Linked DNA regions of Homo sapiens. The protein of the gene in region 1 purifies or fractionates together with the protein of each later gene. This does not show direct contact. Each region holds a gene or a part of one and is shown on either strand. Other genes may lie near its edges.

Region 1 (3,500 bases):
TCAACCCCGTGATGTTGCCTGTGGGCCCGAGTCTTGCTAGTATAGTCTCTTAAAGGGCCCCAACTACCCAACCTCAACAGCACACAGCATCCAGTCATAATCCAGCACATGCTCTATTCTAATACAAATACTGTGGAGTGGGCAGGAAACTTAAAATCAAGGTTCAGATCCTTAAAAATTAAAACAGGCCGGGCACGGCTCACGCCTGTAATCCCAACACTTTGGGAGGCTGAGGTGGGTGGATCACCTGAGGTCAGGAGTTCGAGACCAGCCTGCCAACATGGTGAAACCCGTCTCTGCTAAAATTACAAAAAATTAGCCGGGCGTGGTAGCAGGCGCCTGTAATTCCAGCTATTCGGGAGGCTGGGGCAGGAGAAATGCTTGAACCCGGGAGGCGGAGGTTGCAGTGAGCTGAGATCACGCCATTGCACTCCAGCCTGGGCAACAAGAGTGAAACTCCGTCTCAAAAAAATAAATAAATAAATAAAATAAATAAATTAATTAATTAAAATAAAGATGTGGGGCAGTAAGGCTGTTCACTTTCCTGGTTGGATTGTACTGGAAGAGGCTTTCAAGATGGCATCTTACATTTATCAAGTACCTTAACAAGTCTCACACTCTGGGCCAGTAATCCCACATTTAGGAATGACTTGAAGGGAACAGAGTTCCCATCAAAGATTTATATATAAGACATTTATTGTTTCATTCATTAAAAACAACAAAAAATTGGAAACATCCCAAATGAGTAAACATCCCTATTTGGAATACCAATAAAAATCTTGTTACTTAAGACTGTTTAGTGATACAGGAAAAGACTGACAATATAAACCCACATACACAAATCAAGAAACACAAAATGTTATCAATCATTATCTCTGGGCAACAGGATTATGGGTGACTTTGTTCATCACACATTTCCTATTTTCTATACTGTGAAACACACGAGCTCTATCACTGCTATTCCCATGCAAGGCAATTTTGGAAAAGGAGAACTACTGGCCCCAATCCGCCCACCTCAACCCAGCCTGGAGTAGGCTGCTTTTCTAAATAAATTCACGCTGGCACACAGCCAAGCCCATTCATTAGCTTATTGTCCGTGTTTCTTTTGTGCTCAAAGCGGAGTTGAATAGTTACAACAGAGACCATATGGTCTGGAGAGCCTCCTGGAACATTTACTATGTGGCTATTTACAGAAATGTTTCCCAACTCGACTGAGACGATTCCATTAGTTCAAGATGGCACAGACCTCTGCCACTCCCTCCTGGGACGGAGCTGGTACTTGAGGAGGCATTCACCCTGAACCATGGGCACACTGAGGGTGGGGCCCTCCTTCTGAAAGAGACAAAACACATTCATGGAGAGAAAGAGAGGGGACGAGAGCTGGGCCGACAAGGGGCCGGTCTGAGACACTACCTTACAGCGGAAACTGGTGAGCAGGGGGAAGATGTCCGGGTGGATGAGGTTGAGCTGGGTTTGAATCTTGTGGCTGCGAAGGTTGTGAACTGAGGCACAGTTCTCATTCAGGACCAAGTGCTGGGTGTCAGGCCCAAACCTGTGAAGAAACAGACCCGGCATTTGCAGCGTCTGTTAGGAGGCAGCTCCCCCTGAGGAGTGGTGCTGAGCTCAGGAGTGGTAATGAGGATGAGGTGTTCAAACAGTTCAGTGACTTGCCCCAAGCAGTGTTACTACATGGCCAAACATGGTCCCACTCCTGCTGTCTCAAAGCCCGGTGTTCCCTAGCTCAGCTGCCTTTCAGGTGTGCTGGGAAGAGTGAGAGGAAAAACAAGAAAAAGAAGATGTCCAGGGCATACAAATAGGGGACCCAAACCCTGAGGAATGAAAGAGACAGCAGGAGAGCAGGCCATGGAGTGAGGGGCAGGTAAACGGGCCATGTGGGGAGATACGGGCAGGGGCCAAAAAGCAGCCCAAGGTCACCCCGCACCCGAGCTCAACTCATACTCCTCCACCTGGCCCTGGCCAGCGATGCCCCGAGGAAAAAGATGCCTTCCAGTGACTAAACATCTACCTCCCAGGGCTGCTGGCGACGACCCTAGAGGAAATGAAGTGAAATGAAGGGTATTTCACACACTGCCTCCCACAAAGTGGGCATTCAGTAAATGGAAGCTATCATTTTATAGCTGCAATCTCTTCTTTGGAATTCACTTATGGAATCCTCAACCAAACGGCAGTATTTGTTCAGACACCCTGAAGAGTGTGGAGGGTGTAAAATAAATGGAATCGTGTGGACACTGCGCCACCTAGCGGTGCATTTTCTTCACGAGTGTAGCACAGATCTGGGAAGCCTAGAATTCTGGGAAGGCAGGAATCCCACAGAAAGTTTAGGCAGGTGCAGAAGGGTAGGTAGCGCTGGAAAGAGCACGAGGGGAGGAAAGGGGAATCCACCACTGCCCAGAAGAGTTACCCCAAGTGCCGCTGGGCTGGGCTCCATACCTCTCCATCCACTGCTGGTACCTGCTGTCCACAAGCACAGATGCTGGGGCCATGTGAACCACCAAGGCCACGGGGGCATCTGCCTTTCCTTGGTACCTGGGCAGAAGAGTGGGGCTTTACAAAGTGATGCAGACTCAGGACACACCAAGACAGGGACCACGCAGCCAGGGAGGGGTATCGTGCGGCCCTCTGCAGCACTGCAGTGAGCTGACAGCCTCCACGCCCAGGCCATGCTCTCACAGCAGGCTGCTCACGGCAGACCCCGGTGCTGGGCCATTTCCAATGGACGTGGGATTCCTGTATCTGGCAAGCTCTGCTCTGGGCTTTCCAGTAGGCCTGGCTGATCCTTTCTCAGCACTGCACTTCCTTCCTACCCTCTCCACTCATACGGGTCCAACCTGCAAAGCCAGACCCAGGCTCTCCCTGCCTCCTCCTGCTCCCTCTCTCCTTCCTCTCTCACAGTCAAATTTCCTCGAATAAACCTCCTGCACCTCCAATGCCACCCTGGTGTCTGCCTTCCAGAGGACCTGAGACACAGGCACGAGAAATGAAAATCATCTGAAATTTCACCACCTGGACAACAGACCACTTACTAACATGCTGATGTGTTTCCCTCCAGTTCCCTTTAAAAAGAAATATACACAGTAGCTATTTTTATCTATCCCAGCATCATCACACATCCACACATGGCTCTCAAATGACACCTGATTCATTGAAGAGGTTTTGCTGCCCAAAACTGGATTAAAATACAAAGCCGGGGCTACCAGCGCATCCAAATTCACCCACAGAGAATAAAGCAGACCATGAAACAACTCCTAACGCTCTGACTCGGAAGGGGTACAGCAGCCCAAAAGGATTTGTTGTGGTAAGTAGAAAAAAACAAGTGAAAAAATACAGATAGATACAAACTAGGAACAGGAAAAATACAGGTAAACCATTAAGAGTGGGGGAAAAGATTCAAACTCAGATAGGTGGGTCAAAGATGATTCCATCTGGAATGAAAGCTGAACCGCAAAACTGGTTAACTTCGATAGAGGACAACAACAGAG
Region 2 (3,500 bases), on another chromosome or scaffold:
AGGACTTTACCAAGAAACTAACATTTACACTTTCTGACGGAACTGAAATACACTGAATTACAGGCATATTCACTGAAACAACAAAAAAAATTCTGTCCATGTAAAGGCTATATTTTTTACCCCCAAAAAAGTGTTTCAATTCTGATACTCACACCACAACTGGTTAAGAAAATAAAGCGCAGTGTTTAGCAACTGAGCATCCTAACTACCGTAAGAGGCACTCTGTGCTCACCCCTTCCTGGCAACCGCTGAGGTCAGCAAGGCCAGGAGCAAGGAGAGCCTCCTATTTTTCAACACAAGCTGCTGCCGTCTCCTTATTAAAGCCCCGGATGGAGAGATCATAGACCACTTCCTCTACTTTCTTCACGTCATATTTCAATCCGTCGTAGCGCTTCCTCAGGGAGTCATTTTTCAGGTTGAGAAGGCGAAAACCGGAATCCAGCTCATTGATGAAGGTGGAGATGTGGAGGGGTCGGGAGTAGTCTCCAGCAGTCACGCTGTTGACAGACAGCCTCGACTGTACCAGGAAAGAGAAAACAGGGGCTTGTTACAACATGGCTCCTTCTCAGCGCATCTTCCTCTGAATCACAACCAGAAGAACCGCAAGCCTAGACAGCCACGCTGATCTTCTATCTCAGGGTACACACAAGTACAGACAAGACAGGAGCTTCTCTGAAAAGAATCCCACTGAAAATGAGACCAGTTCTGCCAAGTAAAATTTAACATTACTAACATCTAAAATTTCTCTAATTTCTTAAACTGGCTATTGCATAATAAAGTGTTACATTACACAAGCATCTTTACAGCTCATCTGCTATCATATCGAAGAAAGAAACGACAAAATAATCACAGCAGCTCCACTACCTCTTCCAACCTTGGCCAAATGATCACATTTCTAGAGCCCACCTACTAAGCTGCAACTCCAGTCACCTAGAATCAAGTAAGGCAGACTTGGGATAAGAATCTAAAATTATGTTAGTGTAACCCTGTCTTGAAGGAGAACTAACATTGATTTCAAGACCCAACCCAAGACTCCCCTTCTCGGTGTCAGTATACAACCCCCTACTGCTCCATTTGACTGGCTTTAAAAAATATATTAAAATAATAAAAAAGATTCCCCTTTCTGTAAAATCCTCTCCACTTTTCCAGGCTTACCCCTTTAGTGCACTGTCAACATACGGGTTTTTTGTTTGTTTGTTTGTTTTTAATATAGAGAAGGGGTCTTGCTTTGTTGCTTAGGCTGGTGTGGAACTCCTGGCCTCAAGGGATCCTCCCACCTTGGTCTCCAAAACTGCCAGCATTACAAGCGTAAGCGACTGTGCCCGGCCCCAACATGTATGGTCCTAAAGACACCTTACACTTAACTAATACTAACAAGATGCTTCCTGTTTACTGGTCAGGTGTCTCCAACAAGCCAGACAAGTGGTACAGCCTACAAGTGGACCCCATCATCCATTCTCACCATCTTCCTCAGGTTTTCAATGCACACATACCCACTCCAATAGACTCCATTTCTGCCTCCCTGCAGGCAAGGCACCAGAATGTTAACAGAAGTTGTGTGTACAACTTCAAAGAAATGTCCTTAAAGCGGGAGGGCATACCATTTTCCCTATTTCCTCCTACTGCTGGCTAGAGTGAAGATGTGACTAGAGCAACAGTTCTGGAACATAAGAAAGAAGCTGAAGCTAGAAGAACCTAGGGCCAAAGATCAAGGAATCATCAGACCAGCCCTGGACTGCTTTCCTCTGGAGCAAGGACAAGCAAACTTTTTCTTAACGAGCCAGATAGTAAATATTTTCACCTCTGCAGACTGGCACAGTCTCTATCACAACTACTCAATTTTGCTACTGACAGCTTTTTTTTTCTTTAGACTTTTACAGGGCAATTTCCCTAGATAGTGGTTAAAGGAATAAAGGATAAGAATAACTTAGTTATATAGACAAATGAGTGTCCAAAACAATTACATGGATTAACAGTTACCAGGAATAAATGTTTTGCCACTACCCTAAAAGGAAGAGGTCTTATCATCGGTTAAAAATTCTTAACTCAGTAAGTATGCACTCATCATTTGATCTGGCTTTTCTCTGATGCCTAGTAAATTGTAACACATACAGTGCCAGTCAGTGACTACCTGGTGACCGAGAGATGGCTTAGAAAAGAATTAAGACGTTCTGAATTTTGGTACCCATTTTAAAAACAGACAGTGGGCCAGGCACAGTGGCTCACGCCTATAATCCCAGCACTCTGGGAGGCCAAGGTGGGCGGATCACGAGGTCAGGAGATCGAGACCATCCTGGCTAACACGGTGAAACCCCGTCTCTACTAAAAATACAAAAAAAAATTAGCCGGGTGTGGTGGCGGGCGCCTGTAGTCCCAGCTACTCAGGAGGCTGAGGCAGGAGAATGGCATGAACTCGGGAGGCGGAGCTTGCAGTGAGCCGAGATTGCGCCACTGCACTCCAGCCTAGGCGACAGAGCGGGACTCTGTCTCAAAAAAAAAAAAAAAAAAAAAAACTGACAGTGAAGCAGAAAGATCAAAAAAGCAACCAGCAAGTTACTGAGCTTACCAGTTCACTGGCAAGAATTAGAACTCCTGAGAGATAATCTTCTACATCCAGATGAAATCCTTTCTCCCGATCTGGCTCAACTAAAAAACACATGAAAATAAAGTCATGCTGTGAATGCAAGTTAAGCCTCAGAATATAAAAATATACACATAATTTCTCCCAAAGTAAGTGAAGAAAGGATGAATCTTTTAAAAACTGGCTTTTTAATATATTCACAACCTTGGCAACTAGACCTCACTATGGATTTTTTGAGTTCTTAAGCAAAATTCAATTCAGTCTTCCCTCAAAAATACTATCAAAAACAGTATCTAGTTGTGTCACAGAATATACTTCTTGTTAGAAAGCACATGATAAAGCATTTCAGAAAGGAGTTACGATATTTGCAACTTTCAAATGGCTGACAAAGACACACACAAAATGAGAAGATTAAGCAGATGTAGCAAAATGTTAACAAGTGGTAAATCTAAGTGGCATGTAAACAGGTATTCATTGTACTATTCTTTCAATTTTTCTGTAGGCTTGAAATTTTTAAAAATTCAATTTTAAAAACTAAAGCAAGTGCAAATGTGTTTGCCATTGTTATTTTTAGCTTTTACATTTCCAGGTAGAGTCGGCCCTCTGCGCTAACCAACTATGGATAGAAAATATTTGGGAAAAGGCCAGGCGTGGTGGCTCATGCCTGTAATCCCAGCACTTTGGGAGGCCAAGGCGGGCAAATCACGAGGTCAGGAGTTCAAGACCAGCCTGGCCAACATGGTGAAACCCTGTTTCTACTAAAAAAATACAAAAAATTGGCTGAGTGCGGTCACTCACGCCTGTAATCCCAGCACTTTGGGAGGCTGAGGCAGGCGGATCACCTGAGGTCAGGAGTTCAAGACTAGCCCGACCAACATGGAGAAACCTCATCTCTACTAAAAATACAAAATTAGCCGGG

The links. The genes of interacting proteins can lie anywhere in the genome.
Region 2: the proteins of ELAC2 (region 1) and TSN fractionate together in Homo sapiens (co-fractionation; one large-scale study listed by BioGRID). This does not show direct contact.

What each region holds. Positions count from the first base shown.
Region 1 is NC_000017.11:13,001,028-13,004,527, forward strand, and holds part of ELAC2 (zinc phosphodiesterase ELAC protein 2), read right to left. Parts: intron 2,548-3,500; coding exon 2,452-2,547; intron 1,553-2,451; coding exon 1,414-1,552; intron 1,333-1,413; coding exon 1,247-1,332; intron 1-1,246. UniProt on the Homo sapiens protein: Zinc phosphodiesterase, which displays mitochondrial tRNA 3'-processing endonuclease activity. Involved in tRNA maturation, by removing a 3'-trailer from precursor tRNA.
Region 2 is NC_000002.12:121,762,151-121,765,650, reverse strand, and holds part of TSN (translin), read right to left. Parts: intron 2,647-3,500; coding exon 2,567-2,646; intron 518-2,566; coding exon 284-517; 3' UTR 1-283. UniProt on the Homo sapiens protein: DNA-binding protein that specifically recognizes consensus sequences at the breakpoint junctions in chromosomal translocations, mostly involving immunoglobulin (Ig)/T-cell receptor gene segments.